3 linked regions of the Homo sapiens genome follow. The protein of the gene in region 3 purifies or fractionates together with the protein of the main gene of each other region. This does not show direct contact. Each region holds a gene or a part of one and is shown on either strand. Other genes may lie near its edges. The genes, in order: ADCY9, SNX11 and AREG.

Region 1 (7,111 bases), on a different chromosome or scaffold from region 3:
CCGGCTATGGGACCACAGCCACCTGTTCAGCCTTGCTCAGCGTCAGCTCTTTGGTAAAAGGAGGATAATCATCAGCTTCCCTACAGCATTGCTATGAGCATTAAATGAGACGATATTTTGCCTTACGGGCCACCAACCAGCCAACTGCCAACTTGCAAGTCCACTCCGGGAGCCATGTCTGGGACATTAACGGATATTCACTGTCCCTTGGAGGCTGACGGAAGGGGGCACCTCCCACCCCACGAGGCATGAACTGGCTCTACTGGGCTCACCAGGGTCTCTCTAGAGCCCAAGCCAGGACACCACGGAGTTTAATGAAGACCTGCTGGAGGAACCAAGGGAATCAGAGTGAGAAATCCCTTTTGTTCCGGGTGGGGAGGGCATCCACTCTTGACTTGGGAACACTCAGAGGTTAGGTTTGGGCCCAGAGGAGAGAATGCAGTCTGGAAGCCGCCAGGATTCAAACCAGGCTCTAGGTTCTTGTATTATTCCTTCCAGCAACCCCCTAAGGAGCACTTGTGAGCGCTGGGACTCTGCTGGAGGCTGTGAGGAGGGGCTGGAGGAGAGAGATGGGTGTTGGGACTGTGCTGGAGGCTGTAAGGAGGGGCTGGAGGAGAGAGACGGGGGTCCTACCTCACAGAGCTGAGCATCTAGGGAGGGAGGAACACGAATCCAGAACCACACACGGAAAGATTCCAAAATGGGGCACACACGGAGAAGGAAGTGTATGAAGGGAAGTACAATCCAGTCTGCAGTCGGGGAGAGCTTCTTGGAGGAAGTGGGATTGGGTGATGGGCTGAGAAGTCAAGTACAAGGGGTTAAGGCGGTGGGGGCGGGAGAGGGAACATGGAGCCGGAGTTAGAGAGAGAGGTGAAGGCCTCCTGGGCCCTTCTCAGGGGAAGAAAGCAGGGAGGGCAACAGAGAAGAGTCTCACCCAAGACTCCAGGACAGGTGGGACGGGGGCTCTTCCAGGGCAGGTCGGTGGGGAGTTCCCTTCCAGGGCAGGTGGGGGGTTCCCTTCCAGGGCAGGTGTGGGGGATTCCCTTCCAGGGCAGGTGTGGGGGGTTCCCTTCCAGGGCAGGTGTCGGGGTTCCTTTCCAGGGCAGGTGGGGAGGGGTTCCTTTCCAGGGCAGGTGGGGGACCCCTTCCATGGCAGGTGGGGGGGGTTCCTTTACCAGGGCAGGTGTGGGGGCCCCTTCCAAGGCAGGTGGGGGGGTTTCCTTCCAGGGCAGGTTGGGGGTTTCCTTTCAGGACAGGTTGTGGTGGGGGGGCCCCTTCCAAGGCTGGGGATAGCCTGGAGATGCCACGGCAGAGGAAAGGGGCTAGTAATGGCGAGGCTGCGCTTTAAGACAAAGGACTAAAGAAAGGGTTTTTTTCCTCCTTTGCAAAGAGACATTTCATGTACAGTTGCCACTTAGGGTTTACAGAGTGTGGGAAATCAATGTTCGCCTTCGTGTTCCCATCCCTTGGTAAAGCACAAAACTAACAGTGAATGACCATGTGAGAACAACAAACACATTCTTTAGTAAAAGCGCAAGGAGAAATGAACGCACCTCTTCCTGATAGCTGGTCCTGTAGGATCGCTCCAGCTCCTGATCCAGGAAGTTCAGGCTGAACTGATTAATGGGCGGCTTAAAAAAGTAATCTTTCATCAGGCTAGAAGACACAACAAATGCAGTCGATCAATACCCAGCACCATAACTGTGCCAATGTTTTCAGATCATAATTAGCTACCAAAACGCTGCTCATTAGGTATATTACAACAGCTGCGTCTAAAAGCGCCTGTGGAACAGACGCCACTCAGCTGCCCCTTGTTAAAACAGATCTGTGGAAAGTCCTTCGCACCTCAAAGCATAATCATATTTTGTGTTTCACCTTCGTTAAAGAATGACCATCCACCATGATTATAGCACACATCATCAGAACCTTGGTTTTTTGGGGTTTTTTTTTTTTGAGGCAAGGTCTCACTCTGTCGCCCAGGCTGGAGTGCAATGGCGCAGCGATCTTGGCTCACTGCAATCTCCGCCTCCCAGGTTCAAGCAATTCTCCTGCCTCAGCCTCCTGAGTAGCTGGGATTACAGGCGCCTGCCACCGCACCCAGCTAATTTTTGTATTTTTTAGCAGACGCGGGGTTTCACCATGTTGGTCAGGCTGGTCTCGAACTCCTGGGCTCAAGAGATCCACCCATCTCGGCCTCCCAAAGTGCTGGGATGACAGCGTGAGCTGCTGAGGCTTGTTTTTGAAAACACATTCCTAATGTCTAGGATTAGGAGAAGATGAAGGCAGCTTTTCTGTTCTTTGAAACAATCTTTTGTGAAGAACACGCAGATCACTGTGCTGAGAGTACTTACATGGATTTGGAGGCTTCAAACGAAAACATAATTCAGAACCGGCGGTCCTGTCATTCAGAGCACTGACAGTAATTGCCACCGTAAAAGCTAACAGGTTGTTATCACAAAATTGTGTTTATAGTTAGCGTAATTTTGGTGCTATTGTCACATATGCAGATTGCATGTGAAACCTGCAGAATGATAAAGCTCAGTGATTTTAATAGCAGGGAAATCAACCCCGCTTTCCATGACTCTTTCATTCATTTATGAATTGCCAGCAAATAGTAATATCCTTTCTATACTGCAGAAAATTACTAGAAACTAAGGGAACGTTAACATGATTTCAGAAAGCAAATATAGCTGTGTTAGCCTCTCTCCCTCATACAGTGACTATCAGAAGTAAATTAGACGAGGCTGGGCGCGGTGGCTCATCCTTGTAATCCCCAGACCTTTGGGAGGCCGAGGCAAGCGGATCACCTGAGGTCAGGAGCTCGGGACCAGCCTGGCCAACATGGTGAACCCCCGTTTCTACAAAAAATACAAAAATTAGCCAGGCCTGGTGGCAGGTGCCTGTAATCCCAGCTACTCGGGTGGCTAAGGCAGGAGAATCACTTGAACCTGGGAGATGGAGGTTGCAATGAGCCAAGATGGCGCCACTGCATTACAGCCTGGGTGACACAGCAAGACTATGTCTCAAAAAAAAAAAAAAAGAGTAAATCAGGTGAAATATGTCAAGTGCCTCATGTGCCCCCCACACAAAGTACGGCTCATCACGTGTGTTCCTTCCTGTCCTTGCAGCACGGCGGACACTCTCCTTTCTGTGACAGGTATCCAGTAACTTCCAACATTCTCAGACTCAGAAGAGAAATAATTCTGTCCCAGGACACTGACCCTCTCTCCTCCCCTGACTCAGGGAGTGTGGACTGAGGGAAGAGCAACCACGCAGCTGCAGAGAGGATGTGCACAAGGCCACATTTTAGCAGTCAAGTGGCAGAAGCGACACTGCTATTAGCTGTGCTGCTCCATTTATTTCTTATTTGTTTTTTGAGATGGAGACTCGCTCTGTTGCCCAGGCTGGAGTTGCAGTGCTGCGATCTCAGCTCATTGCAGCCTCTGCCTCCTGGGTTCAAGCGATTCTCCTACCTCAGCCTCCTGAGTAGCTGGGATGACAGGCACCCGCCACCACGCCCAGCTAATTTTTGTACTTTTAGTAGAGACGGGGTTTCACCTTGTTGGCCAGGCTGGTCTTGAACCCCTGACTTCAGGTGATCTACCTGCCTCGGCCTCCCAAAGTGTTGGGATTATAGGCGTGAGCCACAGCGCCTGGCTGAAAATCACCCTTTGAGGCATTATAGTGAAGACAGAGGCAAGAATCATCAATGAATGTTAAATCTAGGGAATTCTGATGGGGAATGAAATATGTACAAGATCTTCAAGTATTTTCTCACAGATTGCTTATTAGTCATAAGAGGAATATAATAACCCTAGATGAGACAACCCGGCACCACCTTGCCTAATTAATCAAAATTAGTATCACTAATGAGGAACAGACGGGCACTGCGTGTCCCTGGAGAGGACACCCTGAGGAGGACACGGCATCCCTTCTGCAGTCTCTGCCTGGCCAGAGGGAGAGCCTGAATCTAACCAATCCAACTTCAGGAATATTTGATAAAAGGACTGGACCTGTATTTTTCAAAAATGTTACCATTAGGCCAGGCACAGGCTCACACCTGTAATCCCAGCACTTTAGGAGGCCGAGGCGGGCAGATCACCTGAGGCCAAGAGTTCGAGACCCGCCTGGCCAACATGTTAAAAACCCATCTCTACTAAAAACACAAAAATTAGCTGGGCATGGTTGTGTATGCCTGTAGTCCCAGCTACTTGAGAGACCTAGGCAGGAGAATTACTTGAACCTGGGAGGTGGAGGTTGCAGTGAGCCGAGATTGAGCCACTGCACTCCAGCCTGGGCAACACAGCAAGACCTAGTCCTTATAAAAAAAAAAAAAAAAAAAAAAAAAGCCAGGCGTGGTGGCTCACGCCTATAATCCCAGCACTCTGGGAGGGTGGGGTAGGTGGATCACCCGAGGTCAGGAGTATGGAGACCAGCCTGGCCAACATGATGAAACTCCATCTCTACTAAAAATACAAAACCTAGCCAGGCATGGTGGTGGGTGCCAGTAACCCCAGCTACTTGGGAGGCTGAGGCAGGAGCATCGTTTGAACCTGGGAGATAGAGGCTGCAGTGAGCCAAGATCGCGCCACTGCACTGCAGCCTGGATGACAGAGCGAGACTCAGTCTTAAAGAAAAGAAAAGAAAAAGGCAGAGAGGCTTCTGCCTGCAACCTTTGCTTTTTCCCAGACAGCCCCAGTCGTACCTGTCTTCTTTGATAACGTCCACAAAGTGGGCGTCCGTTTTCTCCCGGATGTTCTTGAACCTCAGCGGAAGGAGAGCCGACTGGTCCAGGCTCACCCCTGCCCACCTTCCCTTCTCCTGCAAGATCTCACACAGAGAAGTCTGACTGTTGGTGAGCTTCTCCTCTTGGGGAGGGCTGAGGAGCCCGTTCTGAGTTTTGGGATTAGGTCCTCCAGAAGCCTGCCTCGAGACAAAGAGGACGCAGACACGGGAAGTGAAGTGGCACCGGGCACTGGGCACACACGCCTGTCCCACCCCGACCTCCGCTGCGGGGCGCTGCTGCACTGGGCGTGGGACTTTCTGACCTGCGAGGAACCCCCACCCCCCTGCGCCTACAGACCTGCTCCAATCCCAGCCCTGACTGCCCGTCTGCTCCTTCCTGTTACCCAACAGTGCCCAGTGGTAACGCTGGGTGTTCAGGCTGCCAGGACATTGAGACATGGGAAGAGTCGGTGCGGAGGTGGAGGGGAAGGGAGGAAAGTGAGGAGCCGAGGCCCCCAGAGTCTGCTTAGGCCAGAACCACGGTTCTGGGAGCAGGGTGCATGGGTCGGGGGTCCAGGAGAAGTATGACGAGGGGTCCAGGGCTGTCAGGGCACAGGCAAGGTGGATGGAAACGGGCTCGTGTCGTGGGTGTCCCCCGTGGCTGTGGGAAGGCATGGGATGACCTGCACCTGCAATCCTTTGGCAGATGGAGAGCAGATGGAGGACGAGAGCCCGCGCCCCAGGTGAGTCGCCTGCATGAGCCCCCGCCGACAGGCTCTCGCGGGTGGGCTGAGTCCTGGCCCTGGTGTCCAAGTCTGGTTTTCCTGAAAGCCTTCCTGCCACCGGCCCTAACTCCCAACCTCTCTCTTCACCCAGCCTTTCTCGCCGTGAAGACCCCCTCTTGTCTCTGCCCGTCTATATTCTCTCATAAACTGAGTCCAGCTTCCAGTACCACAAATCCCCTCCCGGCACTCGAATCCACGCATTTTAAACCCTTATTGGCCTTTAAAGGAATCCCGCCCAGCTCAGCCCCTGAGCGCTGGTTTCCACGTGGGTTGCTGCTGACCCTCCCTCGAGCTCCCTGCCGGTCTCTTCAACACCCGGAGGACCCGCGGGTGCGGAGTGCTGTTACCCAAGAGGAGTTACTCTCAGAACTAAGAAGTCGACAAGACAGGAATGTCACCTTGGGTGGATGCGCCAGGAGAGGAACTGACAGGAACAACAGCCATGAGCTTGTTACCTTGGTGCTGTTTTTATGCTCGTCTTGGCAGCCGTTTTGAGGTGCTCCTCCCTCGGCGCCGGCTTCAGATTTGGGAGCAAATGTGATTCCGCACGAAGGGCAGGTCTAGAAGAAAAACACAGACTGTGGGGACACACCCAGAAACCGCGACTGCCACCCTGAATTCAGGCAGGTCCGCTGTTGCCATCTGCCGTCACGCAGCATGGTGGTGAGCAAGGGGAAGGCACACAGAACCGCTCGGGGATGAGCTGAAAGCCAACGGGCAAAGTGACAGTGGAAACACACAGAAACCCGGGCACGAACGCAACAGGACCCAAAAATGGAACCGGGAATGTTCACTGACTGAACAATGGATCAACAAACTGTGGTCTATTCGAACAATGGGATATTACTCAGCCACGAAAAAGACGGAAGCACTGACGCCTGCCACAGCATGGTGAACCTCGAAAACATTATGCTCGGGGAGGGAAGCCAGACACAGCACAGATATTACGTGATCCCGTCTATGTGAAATATTCAGAAAAGGTGAATCCTTGGAGGGAGAAGGCAGATTCCTGGCTGCCAGGCGGGACCGGGGGCAGGAAGGGGGAGTGGCTGCTAAGGGGCGTGGGGTTTGCTACGATTCGAATGTTTGTGCCCCCTCAAAAGTCAGACGCTGAAATCCTAATTCCCAAGGGGATGGCATTGGGGGGCAAAGCCTTGGGAGGTAATTAGGTCATGGGGGACAAGCCTTCAAAATAGGATTAGTGCCCTCATAAAAGAGGCCCCAGAGGAATCCCTCGTCCCTTCGCCCTGGGAGAAGGCACCATCTGTGAAGCAGGAACGGGTCCTCACTGGACACTGAATCTTCCGGGACCTTGATCTCGGACTTCCCAGCCTCCAGAACCCTGAGAAATACATTTCTGTTGTTTAAAAGCCACCTGGTTTGTGGTATTTCAACAGGGTTTCTCTTTGGGATGATAAAAATGTTCTGAAATTGATCACGGTGATGGTTGCACAACCTTGCTAAATATACTAAAAACCACTGAACTGTACACTTTAAAAAGATCGATTTTTAAATATTTTTTGAGATGGAGTTTCACTCTTGTCACCCAGGCTGGAGTACAGTGTCACGATCTTGGCTCACTGCAACGTCCACCTCCTGGG
Region 2 (6,447 bases), on a different chromosome or scaffold from region 3:
TTATGTTTATAAAACTTAGTATTTTAATGTAAGAAAACACCCCCCTCACACACAAACACATTTCCTCCCACCAAACAACCTCCACAAGCTTGGAATCAGTCATCCTGGGTAATGGATGACTAGATGTGGGCCATGGAGGTATCTGACAGAAGAAAGGTGACTACATCAGGACAGAACTTGACTCAAAACTAAATTCTAAACAAAATATTTTTATCCTACAAAACAGCTCAATGAGCCACTCCCCACAGCTAATCCTCCATCTTTCATAGAGGTCATCTGGCCACAGTGGCTAGACCTGGGCACACGCAGGGACAGAGCAAAACAGAAGAGGGGCCTATGGCACTATCTGGATGGAGAGGAAAACTCATGTGCGCTATTTTTCGGATGACCCTAGGCTTGTATTATTAGAAAAGTGCTTTCCTTCCTAGGACTTCTCCTTCCAAGGCCTATACTCAGTTAAGAGAGAGACTGAAAAGAGATGGTGCCTGGCCTTAGATTAACTGAGGTGCTGTTGTATGCATGCTGCTAATGGATCATTAAAAAAGCTGGGAGTCAGAAAAATCACATCCATGTCTTTGAATGGCTCCTGCTGTCCCAGCAGCCTAGCCGGCTGGCAGAACTAGCTGCTGAGCACCAACTCCAGGAAGAAAAGGAGCAAACAGAAGAAGGCCAACCCAGCTTGCTGTTTTTTTGGCTGAGTAGGGAATTGACACAGACCACCTCCAGCTCCTGTCTGGAAGTTTCGAGATCAGAGAGCTTCAGGCACAGCTGGGTTCACAGCTGCACCATTTGGAGCATTGGGCTCATTAATATTCATGAGCCATCCCCACCAATCGGCAGAGCGGATGCCATTAGCTTAGCATCTGTCGGGTTTTTGTGAGGGTTGCACATGGAGTTTTTTTCCCCTTTTAAATGAACTTCTTCTGACATTTTGGATTTGCCTCTGTAGGTTTTCTATCCTCGCCTTGCTCTGCTGCATCATATAAAGGAGAGACCCAGGGGAGGCGGGCAGGAAAGAGGGATGAATACCAGCCAGGGCTTTGCATCTGCCTGTTGACAAACTTTATTTCTCTTTCAGCACCTGGCACCTCAGACAGACTGCGAGGATGGAAGCAGCATCAGGTAAATTATACCTAACAAGGTTCACGCCCAGAACTGTGAGAAGAGTTGGATCCCAGCTCTTTGGAAGACAATCCTTCCTCCAGTGGTGAACTTGAGCTGCACACACAATGCAGGAGGGCTACAGAGCACAGTTCTGAAGCATTATTTCCACACTGATAAATTCATGATTTATGAAAGGAAATACTGCCAGCGCTCACTCCCTCCTTCTCTGCTACAGCTTGTTAGACACAAATTGCAACAACAATCTTAAATACTTGCATTTTATTTCAGGCCAAAGCCCCTCCACTCTGAACTAAATGCCATGACAGTCCCACAGCATAGGCTGGTAGTAAAAGAGCCCACAGACAGGGTAGGATAGCCAGAGGAGGGAGGAGTGGGCGACAGGGAGGGGAAGGATCACACACACAAACCTAAGAGTAGAGCAATGCAGAATGCCTGTGGCACTCGGCTCCTACCAGCTCTGGCTCTCAGTGGAGATGAAGAATGGCAGCAGGAGGACAGAATGCCTCATTGTCTGAAGGAGAGCGTGTTGTTTCTCATCTCCATCCCCAGAGCCCTCTCTTTCAGGCAGGCAGAAACAAAGCCCTTGCACCCCACTGCACTGCGCAACACAGCAGAGACGCTGGTGGCGGAAGCCCTGGAGGCAGGGAGCTGCTACCAAAGGAGAAGAAAAGGATTCCAAAAAGAAAGGAGCCCACTCTAACCCTGCGGAAAAGATGGCCACATGTCTGCTTTATAACCAGAAGAGACAGTAACAGCCCGGGACAGCCTTTCCCAAAATAAAGGCCCCTGGGCTGTTACTGTTCCCTCTGGCTGTGGCCAGCCACTTCTCTCTCATGCATGACCATGAGCTGTTGTGCAGGTCTCAGGCTCCACTCAGCCAGGCTAAGGTCTCGGGACATAAATCCCCAGCAGCAGGAGTCACAGCACCAGTTCCATTCAGTGGTATCAGTGAAAGAAAAAGCAAGGAGGTGGGAAAGTAAATATTCATCCCCCTGTCCATGCAAGGAGGTAGGCAAGAGGCCAGCCTCCCACAAACAAAGTGCTCTAGGGCTACAGCAAAAACTGAAGCCAGCCAAGATGGGGATACAACATAACCACTCCCAGTGGGATGATGTTCAATATGGCAGCTTAGAATTTGCCACATACGGGTCCCCAAAACTGGTCACCTGAGGAGATACTCCTGGTCCTACATACAAATGACCTGCAGAAACTCAGATCCCAGGAGAGTAATATAGGGTTCTGTTCAAAAGCAACAGCCCCTGTGTCTTATGTTTAACTTACAAACATCTGCACAGTATTTGTTCCCATGGAAGAGGCATAAGGGGCTGTAATGACTGACCTCTGTCAATCAGCCCAAGCAGAGGTGACTAGAAGACACTAAGCAGCCCAGCCTCCCACATACCTGCCCTGTGCCCAGTCCCACCTGAGTAAGTCTCCTGGCCCGCATCTTCTCTGACCATCTCAGAGCAGAACCCAGAGCTCACTTTTCCAAAACTGTTTCTAACTGACCAGGGTCCAAAGGCACAGCATGATCTCCTCCCACAGCCCTCCTCACAGACTGAAGAGTGGAGGTTCCCTCTTTGGGTCTTCCAAAATCACAGCATAATGGTGAGGAGAGGGGTGGGAGAGTGGGACTTTCCAAGGAAGGAACCTCAGAGTCAACAACTGGAGCCCACACTTCTAAATGGTCCTTTTCTTCACTGGGAGGCGGTGAGGGAGAGCTCCTCCTACCCGATCTTGGAAGAAAGCAGCAACTGGAAAAGAGTGGGAAAGGGAAAAGAAAGGTATGAACAGCTTGGGTAACATAGGGAGACTCCGTCTCTACAAAAAAATAAATTAGCCAGGGATGTTGGCATGTGCCTGTAATCCCAACTACTCAGGAAGCTGAGGCCAGAAGATTGCTTGAGCCTTGGAGGTCAAGGCTGCAGTGAGTTATGATTACACCACTGCACTTCAGCCTGGGCAACAGAGTGAGACTCTGTCTCAGAAAAAAAAGTATGAACATATAAACAAAAATGAACAGAAAGGGAAGTCTCTCTGAGCCTGTTCTGACTCAGGAGGCTGCCCGATTAAAAAAAAAAAAAATGGCTGGGCATGGTGAATTATTTGAGTCTGGGAGGTGGAGACCAACCTGGGTAACCTGGTGAAACCCTATCTCAATTTAAAAAAATAAAAAAGAGGCCGGGCGTGGTGGCTCACGCCTGTAATCCCAGCACTTTGGGAGACCGAGGTGGGCAGATCACGAGGTCAGGAGATGGAGGCCATCCTGGCTAACACGGTGAAACCCCGTCTCTACTAAAAATACAAAAAAAATTAGCCGGGCATGGTGGCGGGCGCCTGTAGTCCCAGCTACTCGGGAGGCTGAGGCAGGAGAATGGTGTGAACCCGGGAGGCAGAGCTTGCAGTGAGCTGAATCGTGCCACTGCACTCCAGCCTGGGCAACAGAGCAAGACTCCATCTCAAAAAAAAAAAAAAAAAAAAGGCCAGGTGCGATGGCTCACACCTGTAATCCCAGCACTTTGGGAGGCTGAAACGGGTGGATCACCTGAGGTCAGGAGTTCGAGACCAGCCTGGCCAACATGGTGAAACCCTATCTCTACTAAAAATACAAAAACTTAGCTGGGTGTGGTGGCAGGTGCCTGTAATCCCAGCTACTAGGGAGGCTGAGGCAGAAGAGTTGCTTGAACCTGGGAGGCGGAGGTTGCAGTGAGCCGAGATCATGCCACTGCATTCCAGCCTGGGTAACAGAGCAAGACTCTGTCTCAAAAAAAAAAAAAAAAAAAAAAACAGATAAATGCAAGTGAATGGATAAACAAAATGTGGTATATAGCACCATATAAATGGACTGCTATTTAGCCATAAAAATGGGGGAAAAAAAGAGAAAAAAACAGTAATGAAGTAATGACACATGATAAAATACAAATGAACCTTGAAAACATTGTTAGATGAAAAAAGCCAGTTACAAAAGACCACAAATCATATGACTCCATTTGTGTAAATGTCCAAAATAGACAAATGCATAGACAGAGAAAGTAGACTAGTGGTTGCCAGGAGCTGGGGGGGAGGGAAGGACAGGGGAGTCACTACTCATGGGTACAGGGTTTCTTTCGGGGTGATGAAAATGTTCTAAAATTGACTGTGGTGGCTGACAGTTATACAACCCTGTGACTATATTAAAAACTACTGAACTGTATCTAAAAAGGTAAACTTTATGGCAGGTAAATTGTGTGTCAATAAAGCTATTAGGCCAGGCTTATGCCAATAATCCTAGCACTTTGGGAGGCAGAGGCAGGCGGATCACCTAAGGTCAGGTGTTTGAGACCAGCCTGGCCAACATGGCAAAATCCCGTCTCTACTAAAAATACAAAACTTAGCCAGGTGTGGTGGCACTTGCCTGTAATCCCAGCTACTCAGGAAGCTGAGGCAGGAGAATCGCTTGAACCCAGGAGGCAGAGGTTGCAGTGAGCCGAGATCACGCCACTGCACTCCAGCCTGGGTGAAAGAGTGAGCGTCCGTCTCCACACAAAAAAATAAATAAATAAAAAGGGAGGGAGGAGGAATAAAAAACCGAATAAATGAGAAAGCTTTCCCTTCTTTCTCCCCAGGTTTCAGTAGGAGCCCCTGCTACCCAGTGGTGGGTTAACACAGACCCACCTGGATAGAAAGCCACGCACCCAAAGAACAAGAAAGGTTGTGAAAGGCTACCAATGCTATGACATTACTTTCCCTAACAAATGGACACCTCTCTGGTCCAGGTTATAGCAAACCTAGCCCCTGCTATCTCAAAGAGTACTCCAGTTACCTCTTAGGCTGGTCTCCTTTAGCCAGGTGAGAAGAGCTCTGCCTCTCTTCCTGGGCCCAGCCACAGTTTGACATAGCATATCGAAGAATGGCATCAGACACAGTCATGGTACTTCGGCCCTGGACACAGGCTTCTATCTCAGGCACCGAGAGCTGGCTTTGCAGGAATAGGTGCAACTGGCTGTCTGACAGGAGAACCACACTCTGCAGGACCCTGGGAAAAACACAGGTAGCACAACACAGAGCATCACCCTGAGGAACTGCTCTCCATTCCCCATCCTCTTAAGAACTTCTGGCTACCTGAGCAGGGAGCTCCATCCTGCCTGGCACATTCCTCCACCCCTGCCTCCACCCTTGGTGGCCAGCACCAGCCGTTCTGTCCACTCACTTTTCAAGGAAGTGCTGCAGACCTTGTCGTCGCTTCTCAATGAACTCATCTGAGGTGCCGAAGAAGGTTGACTTCCCAGGAAGTTCAGGAACAGGCCTGTGCAGCCACATGATATAACACCCATGATAAGTGTAACATCTAAGATAGTCATTCCGGCCTCTGATCAAGGAAATCCCTTAAAAAGAGGTCTAATCAATACAAATAGCTTTTTTTTTTTTTTTTGAGATGGAGTCTCGCTCTGTCGCCCAGGCTGAAGTGCAGTGGTACAATCTCGGCTTACTGCAACGTCTGCCTCCCGGGTTCAAGCAGTTCTCTGCCTCAGCCTCCCGAGTAACTGGGATTACAGGTGCAGGCCACCACACCCAGCTAATTTTTTGTATTTTTAATAGAGACGGGGTTTCACCATGTTAGCCAGGATGGTCTTGATCTGACCTCGTGATCCCTGCCTGCCTCGGCCTCCCAAAGTGCTGGGATTACAGGCATGAGCCACCGTGCCTGGCCCCAATTAGCTTTTAATAAGGGGTGGTGCTAACATTGACTGCATGCCAAGTGTCAAGCCAGACTGTGCTAAATGTTTTATAAACATGATTTCATTTAGTCATCCCAAAACCCCGTGAGAAAGATATTAACTCACTTCAGATCAGAGAAGTTAAGTAAATGTCTCACTGTTACACAGCTAATAAGCAGCAAAGCTCATATCAGAACCAGATCTATGACTATAAAACCCATGCTGATACATTATTTTTGTCTGTTTGATTTTAGAGACAAGGTATTGCTTTCCAAGCTGCTCTCTCCAGGTTGCCCAGGCTGGAGTGCAGTAGCATAAACGTGAGCATAGCTCGCCGCAGCCTCAAATTCCTGGGATGAAGTAATCCTCCTGCATCAGCCTCCCAGAATAACTATGACTACCGGTACGTGCCACTGTGTGCACCTAATTTATTTATTTGTTTACTTATGTATCTGTAGAGACAGTATTGCTCTGTTGCCCAGGCTGGTCTCAAACTCCTGGCCTCAAGTGATCCTCCTTCCTTAACCTCCCAAAGCACTGGAATTACATGTGTGAGCCACCAAGCCGAGCCACACTATGTTGTTTATGAAACCCACTCCCAGCTTGGTGCCATGGTTCATGCCTG
Region 3 (7,068 bases):
ACCACTTTTGCTTAATAAATAGTAAATATATTTCTCTTATGATTTTCTTAAGAATTTTTATCTCTAACCTATTGTAAGAAGAGAGTATACAATACATATAACACACAAAATAATGTTAAACAACTTTATATTATCAATAAGTGTTCTGGGCACCAGTAGGGAATTAGAGGTTAAGTTCTGGGGGAGTCAAAAGTTATACATGGATTTTTCTCATGTCAGGTAGGCACCCTTTCACACCACAGTGTTAAAAAGTCAACTGTAATTTGACTTTATTGGTATATCAAGGTACTCAAAATGCTCAGTTAAGGCTTCTTTTTGAAGGAACTAAAAATTATATATATATATATATATATATATATATATATATATATATATGTATTTTGATACAGAGTCTCACTCTCTGTCACCCAGTCTGGAGTGCGGTGGCATGATCTTGGCTCACTGCGATCTCCGTCTCCCGCATTCAAGTGATTCCCCTGCCTCAGTCCCCACTCCTGAGTAGCTGGGACTACAGGTGCCTGCCACTGCACCCGGCTAAGTTTTGTCATTTTAGTAGAGACAGGGTTTCATCATGTTGGCCAGGCTGGTCTCAAACTCCTGACCTGAGATGATCCACCTGCCTTGGCCTCCCAAAGTGCTGGGATTACAGGCGTGAGCCACCGTGCCCAGCCTGATGGATGTATTCTTCAGTATGGATAAATTATAAAATAAAATGAACATTATATATATATCTAAATGGAGCTAGTGCATTTATTAATAATATAGGGAATGTTGCTTATACATTGGAGGATTTCTTAATTCTGGTTTGGAGGTTTGCGTGTTGACTCATAAAAGTAACTGTGATGCAATACTTACTCACTATAGGACTATCTATAAAAATTCAATATCAATTATATGAACATGATTGTACTTTTGGTTTTATAGTACATCTTTCAGCAGAGCCAAAGTGAAATCATTTCACTATTCATATGAAATATCAGGACTCATGGAGTAGGCATCAAACTGAGTGGTTAGGAGCATTTGCTCTTAGGGCTGCCCTTAACCTATACATAGATTAAGGGACCATCAATTTATCATGATAAAAAAGGGCTGCTACTCAAACTTTTTGAAATTGTTCCCCTTTGTCTCTGCCTAGCATGCAGAATGTTGAATGTAAAGAATCCTACATTTACACAGGGTTGGTTTCCAACTCATGCATATATTCCAGAATGCCATGACACATCAATAGGTGCTGCAATGTGATGTGGTTGTGACGACGCTCCATGCTGCCCAATGATGCACCATAAAATACCCAAAATGGTTAGTCTTAATGTGAAGTAAATACTAAGTTCATGGATTGAAAATATTGAAGATTACTTCACTTGCTCTGTAGCTCCATTTATAAGAGTCCTTCAGTTCTTAAATATGATTTACATAGTGTAACTATCATAATATCAAGGGTATTCATGATAGTTGCCATTTATTGAGCACTCACTCTATGCTAGGATCTGGTATTGTTCATGTATCTTATCCATTTGATCTGCTTAAAAGCATGTAGTTATCTTTATTTTTTATTTTCAGATGAGGAATCTGAATCTTTCAAATATTAAGTAACTTAGTATGTGCTGGAATTTGTATATGAAAACCCACATTGGTTTGAATCTAAAGCTCATCCAAAGCACTAAGCTATGCTGTCCCCATGATCTAGGTTATGTGCCTAGATCATGTAAATGTTCACCCTATAAATTTCCAACTGGAAAAAGACTAAGCAATTTCCAATATAAACAGTCCACTTTCCCAAAAGTGAAACATTTCTGATGACTGATCTGCACAATGTGTTTTCATCTCAATAAGAAGAGTAAGAAAATGGAAAGTATTGCATATGTTAAATAGCTTGATTTAACCTCATTGTATACATATATCAAAACATCATGTCATATACTACAAATATGAAGTTACTTGTCAATCAAAAAAAAAAAGAAGAAAAGAGAAGAACAGGCCTAGAACAGAAATGAAGCCTATGGGAGCATAAAGGTGCAACAGTGTAGACCAACTGCGTGAGCTCCAAACAAAGTCTCCAAAAGAATCTTTTGAAATCTTTGGGCAAGTCTCTCAATCTCTCTGAATCACAATTGCCTCATCCACCAGAACAGATAACAGTGCAGGCCCCTACTTCACTTTGGAATGGGCATGACACTTTTCTAGCCTTATTTCCCATACTTGGTCATACCCTCACATCAGGTCTTTATTCCATGTAAAAGATTTGCTGGGAAGGCCTTTGAGGGGCCTCTTCATCTTTCCACAGAGCTTTCCATTAAACAGAGGCAAAATTAAACCATGTCCTTTTTTTCCATGGCACTCTGAACCCTTCTCATCATGTGATCTATTAGAATTACTTATCTATGTATCTGGCCCACACCACTGAGCTCCTGGTGAACCTATACTGCTCCCCTTCATAAAATATAAAGCAGGTGGCTCACACAAAATACACTCTCAACAAATGTGGAATAGAAGGCATGATTCATGATTATTTCATTCTACTAAATGCATGATATTATTTGGACTACGCACTGTGATATACCATTAAAAATAAGTGATTTTTAAAAAAAAATTTCCAGAATTAGGACAGATGCACTGTGACTCACGTTATTATTATTATTATTATTATTATTATTATTATTATTATTATTTTGAGTCGGAGTCTTGCTCTATCACCCATGATGGAGTACAGTGGCATGACCTTGGCTCACTGCAACGTCTGCCTCCCGGGTTCAAGGGAGTCTCCTGCCTCAGCCCACCCGAGTAGCTGGGACTACAGGCGCGCGCCATCACGCCCAGCTAATTTCCTTTGTATTTTTAGTAAAGATGGGGTTTTGCCATCTTGGCCAGGCTGCTCTCGAACTCCTGACCTCAGGTGATCCACCCGCCTCGGCTTCCCAAAGTGCTGGGATTACAGGCATGAGCCACTGCGCCTGGCCTGACCTACATTCTTAAAAGGGCTGTGTTACTGAAACAATCAGGAAAGAATCATATCTCCAGGTGAAGGAAAATGAACAATGCTTTTTCTCTTCCTCAAGTCAAGAAAAATCCAGTTCTTTAGTTGACAGTACATCCAAGTTAGTCAAATTAAGTAGCTTCCTGTCTCCGCTTCATTTTATCTACTTGTCATGATTAAATATCCTACTAGGTTGTAAGTGGGCCCTCAACGCTGACCTTTTTATCTTGGGATTTGAGAGGCACAGTCTAGAGCACTACTCTTCACCTAAATGCCAGTATGCCACCAGTAGAAATTATCCTTTAGGCTAAATATTGTTCTTCCCAGAAACCCTCTTTTCAAGGATCAGTTTAAACCTAAATTCATCAGAGAGGAAAACAGCAGATTTCAGAGTCAGATGAAGAATTCATATCCACCTGGCTTTGAACATTATCGGCTGTGAGATGGTGTAGGTAAAATTTTAAGTGCATAATTTGGCAATAATAAATCATCAATAAATATTAATGTTGATGAGGCCCCTGGGCCACATAAAGAAATAGGGAGTGAGGGGATTTGAAATTCTGGCCACTTCACAGAAATGGGTGGGAAGGGGCTCTTGATTGAGATAGAAGCCCATCCTACATGAAGCAATTCCTCATTGAGTTCTCTCGTCCTTTATCCTTGTTGGAAACATCAGGCAAAGTCACTCTTGGTCTTAAAGTACTTTTACATCTAAATACGGAACTCTTCTATTTAATCCCTGTCTGTTGTAGATGTTAAGTATACAAAGAGGTTGTCAGAGTTTGAAACATCTGGACTTCTGTCAGGTACTAGCTCCGGAACTCCAGTCCTGCTCGCCCTCAAAAACGGCTTGCAGCTAGAGGTTTAAGTTCCACTTCCTCTCAGCGAATCCTTACGCACGAGGGAGGCGGGGCGTGTGTCCTCCGCGCGTGGTTTTCGGGTAGCACCTTCTGGGGCGCCGCCTGCCTCCACCCACGGCCGGGCCTTGACGTCATGGGCTGCGGCCCCCTCCCGGCTGAGCCTATAAAGCGGCAGGTGCGCGCCGCCCTACAGACGTTCGCACACCTGGGTGCCAGCGCCCCAGAGGTCCCGGGACAGCCCGAGGCGCCGCGCCCGCCGCCCCGAGCTCCCCAAGCCTTCGAGAGCGGCGCACACTCCCGGTCTCCACTCGCTCTTCCAACACCCGCTCGTTTTGGCGGCAGCTCGTGTCCCAGAGACCGAGTTGCCCCAGAGACCGAGACGCCGCCGCTGCGAAGGACCAATGAGAGCCCCGCTGCTACCGCCGGCGCCGGTGGTGCTGTCGCTCTTGATACTCGGCTCAGGTGAGGATTCACCGGCGCTGAACTGCTGGGCTCTCCTCCCATGGCAGGTTTTGCCTCTTGAGTTTGGCTCTTGCTTCTCTAAAAATCGCCCTTTAGTTCCCCCGACCCTGCGCCGCAGGAGGTGATCACTGTAGCTCCCTCCCTAGGAGGAAAAGAGAAGGGCAGATGTCTCAAACGTCCAGGACAAGGTGTCCCAGAGAATCGCTGTACTTTTTCTTTAGTTCAGCTGAGAAGACGGGAGAGATCATTTGAACCTAACCCTTCGTTTCACAGATTAAAAGATTAAAAAGACCAAGATCTAGAGAGGTGAAGTGATTTCCGCAGATATTGGACCCAGCAGTGTTTGCTGCCTCCTGCCTAATTCTCCATCTCTGTCTAGTGATTTCTTCTTTACCTTCCTAGAGGGACTTAGAGTATCCCGGCGAGAGGTTAAAAGCACCACTCTGATGCTGTTTTATTGAGACCTAAGAAAAAGCAAGATAAAGCAGTGGCTTAACTCTGGGCCCCAAATCTTACTTAGTACTCAGTTTATTGTCTATGTAGTAATAATAATAATGATAATGAAAAATGACAATAATAATCGATATAATTAACCACTGTTTATATTATTTTAAAAGATTATCTTTTAAAAATATCTTTTAAAAATATGAACACATCTTTTAAAAATATGAACACATCTTTTAAAAATATCTTTTAAAAATATGAACACATCTGAAGAAAATCTGATATTTGTATCTAAAACCTACCGAAATAGGCCAGGATGGCATTCTAGCAAAAAAAGAAATGCATTTGGAATGTGAAGTGATGGGAATTTTTAGACATTACCCATCAAGTAATTGTATTAGATTAATTTGCCAATTTGGCGGGATTTTTTTGATGTGGAAATTAATGTGGATTATCTGTGGAAAAGAAAAACTTCAGAAAAGCACTTCTGTAATTGGGACAGCTGAATTTGCTTGCTGGCAAAAATGTAAAGTTTCTTTCATAGAAATGACTCAATCACAAACAATAGCACATGTGCAATAACTGCTTTGATGTCAAAAGATAAACTTTTCTACCTAACACAGCTGACTCGAAAGGCACCCTACTTTACCTTTTCTTTTCTTCCTTTATTCCCTCCCCTGCAGGCCATTATGCTGCTGGATTGGACCTCAATGACACCTACTCTGGGAAGCGTGAACCATTTTCTGGGGACCACAGTGCTGATGGATTTGAGGTTACCTCAAGAAGTGAGATGTCTTCAGGGAGTGAGATTTCCCCTGTGAGTGAAATGCCTTCTAGTAGTGAACCGTCCTCGGGAGCCGACTATGACTACTCAGAAGAGTATGATAACGAACCACAAATACCTGGCTATATTGTCGATGATTCAGTCAGAGGTGAGTAGGGGATAAAGCAAAAATATGGCCTGTGAGATGTGGGTTTATATGAGCAAAGCTGCTTCAGAAGTAAAGCTGCTCCCCAGATTTTCTAGTGGCTTTATTGTATATCTGTTGGATAGCCCCTAGGTAAACTGTGACAAAAAGAACCATAATGTGGGCACATCCTATATGGCCAGAGTGATCATAAATGGTGTATGTCTCATTTTTAAACCTAATCTTCACAATGACTTTAAGTAGGAATTGTTATCCTCATTTTACAGATGTGATAACTGAAGCCGAAAAAGGTTTTGCTCTAGGTTCTACAGGTGACAAGCAGATGAGCTAGAATTAGAGCTCCAGTCTGTTTGATTCTATGCAGAAGAGACACTAAGCTCTTTCCCACTATGCTACATGACCCCCATTCTGAGAGACAAATTTAGACATTAACCATTCCTATCTACTTTGTATCTTAGCTTTTGTATCCCCTTCCCCAACACCACCCTTCCCCAGATAACTGCATTTTAACACAAATAAGGGGACAAGGAAGTAATGGGACAGGAGGCATTAGACTTTAGCGTTTAAGTACTAGGTGATGAGAAGCTGATGGAATAATAATAATAATGCCATCTGGAAATATTAAAGAAGGGTGAATATACTTAGATTTTGTATTGCTAAAATCACTCTTTAACCCCAAATCCCATTTGTTAGTTATATAACCCATGGTTTCTTTCACTTTCCTGTTATCTCATATTTTAAAAAGGCCCTTTGCTTGGAGTGAAAGTACCAAAGTAAGAGAGAAATATTGCATACTTTGGAGTCTGAAGGAAGAAGAAGTTAACAGTAAATAAGATCTAAATATCCTAAGAGCATCCACTACAGAGGCAGGGCAAGATGGTTTCAGAGCTGTTGAAGGCCTTTTCTGTCCTGACTTGAGTTTCCCTGGCTTCTCCCCCTCTTGTCTGGTTCTCAGAACTGGTGAAGGGACATCAAGTGGTACCAGAGGGACAGTGACTTGGGTGAGTGGGAAGTGAGAAAACCTTTAGCGAACACTCCACTTAATTCCCTTCCTTCTCAAAGTGTGCTTTTCTGTGAGGTGGGTAAGGGGTTCATTTGTGCTTATTTTTGAAGGCATGAGATTAGACCCATCAAGGTGTCTAGAAACTGTTCTCTTAAACATGTTTCAAGTTGTTAACACTTCAGAAGGCCAAGTAAATGATTAGTAGTACAAATGATGACTAGTGCTCAAAATTGCAATGCATTGTGAAATAGAGTGAAAATGTTGGCTGAACACCTTCGAAAGGCTAAGTTAAATGTCCATGATGTTAGTGCTTATCGCAACACTTCAGCATAGTGACTTTTTTATTTGCCTCTGTCTATAGTTTGTAATCTATCTGACAAAGTGAAGTTACAACGT

The links.
Region 1: the proteins of AREG (region 3) and ADCY9 purify together in Homo sapiens (affinity purification with mass spectrometry; 3 studies listed by BioGRID and IntAct, with this or other methods). This does not show direct contact.
Region 2: the proteins of AREG (region 3) and SNX11 purify together in Homo sapiens (affinity purification with mass spectrometry; 2 studies listed by BioGRID and IntAct, with this or other methods). This does not show direct contact.

Annotation. Positions count from the first base shown.
Region 1 is NC_000016.10:3,987,441-3,994,551, forward strand, and holds part of ADCY9 (adenylate cyclase type 9), read right to left. Parts: intron 6,885-7,111; exon of another isoform or gene 6,071-6,884; coding exon 5,966-6,070; coding exon of another isoform or gene 5,909-5,965; exon of another isoform or gene 5,602-5,908; intron 5,469-5,601; exon of another isoform or gene 4,924-5,468; coding exon 4,706-4,923; exon of another isoform or gene 4,690-4,705; intron 1,657-4,689; coding exon 1,554-1,656; intron 1-1,553. UniProt on the Homo sapiens protein: Adenylyl cyclase that catalyzes the formation of the signaling molecule cAMP in response to activation of G protein-coupled receptors.
Region 2 is NC_000017.11:48,117,667-48,124,113, reverse strand, and holds the end of SNX11 (sorting nexin-11), read right to left. Parts: intron 5,411-6,447; coding exon 5,315-5,410; intron 5,141-5,314; coding exon 4,928-5,140; intron 2,880-4,927; coding exon 2,606-2,879; 3' UTR 513-2,605; downstream 1-512. UniProt on the Homo sapiens protein: Phosphoinositide-binding protein involved in protein sorting and membrane trafficking in endosomes. Regulates the levels of TRPV3 by promoting its trafficking from the cell membrane to lysosome for degradation.
Region 3 is NC_000004.12:74,441,111-74,448,178, forward strand, and holds the start of AREG (amphiregulin preproprotein), read left to right. Parts: upstream 1-4,025; 5' UTR 4,026-4,235; coding exon 4,236-4,296; intron 4,297-5,423; coding exon 5,424-5,672; intron 5,673-7,068.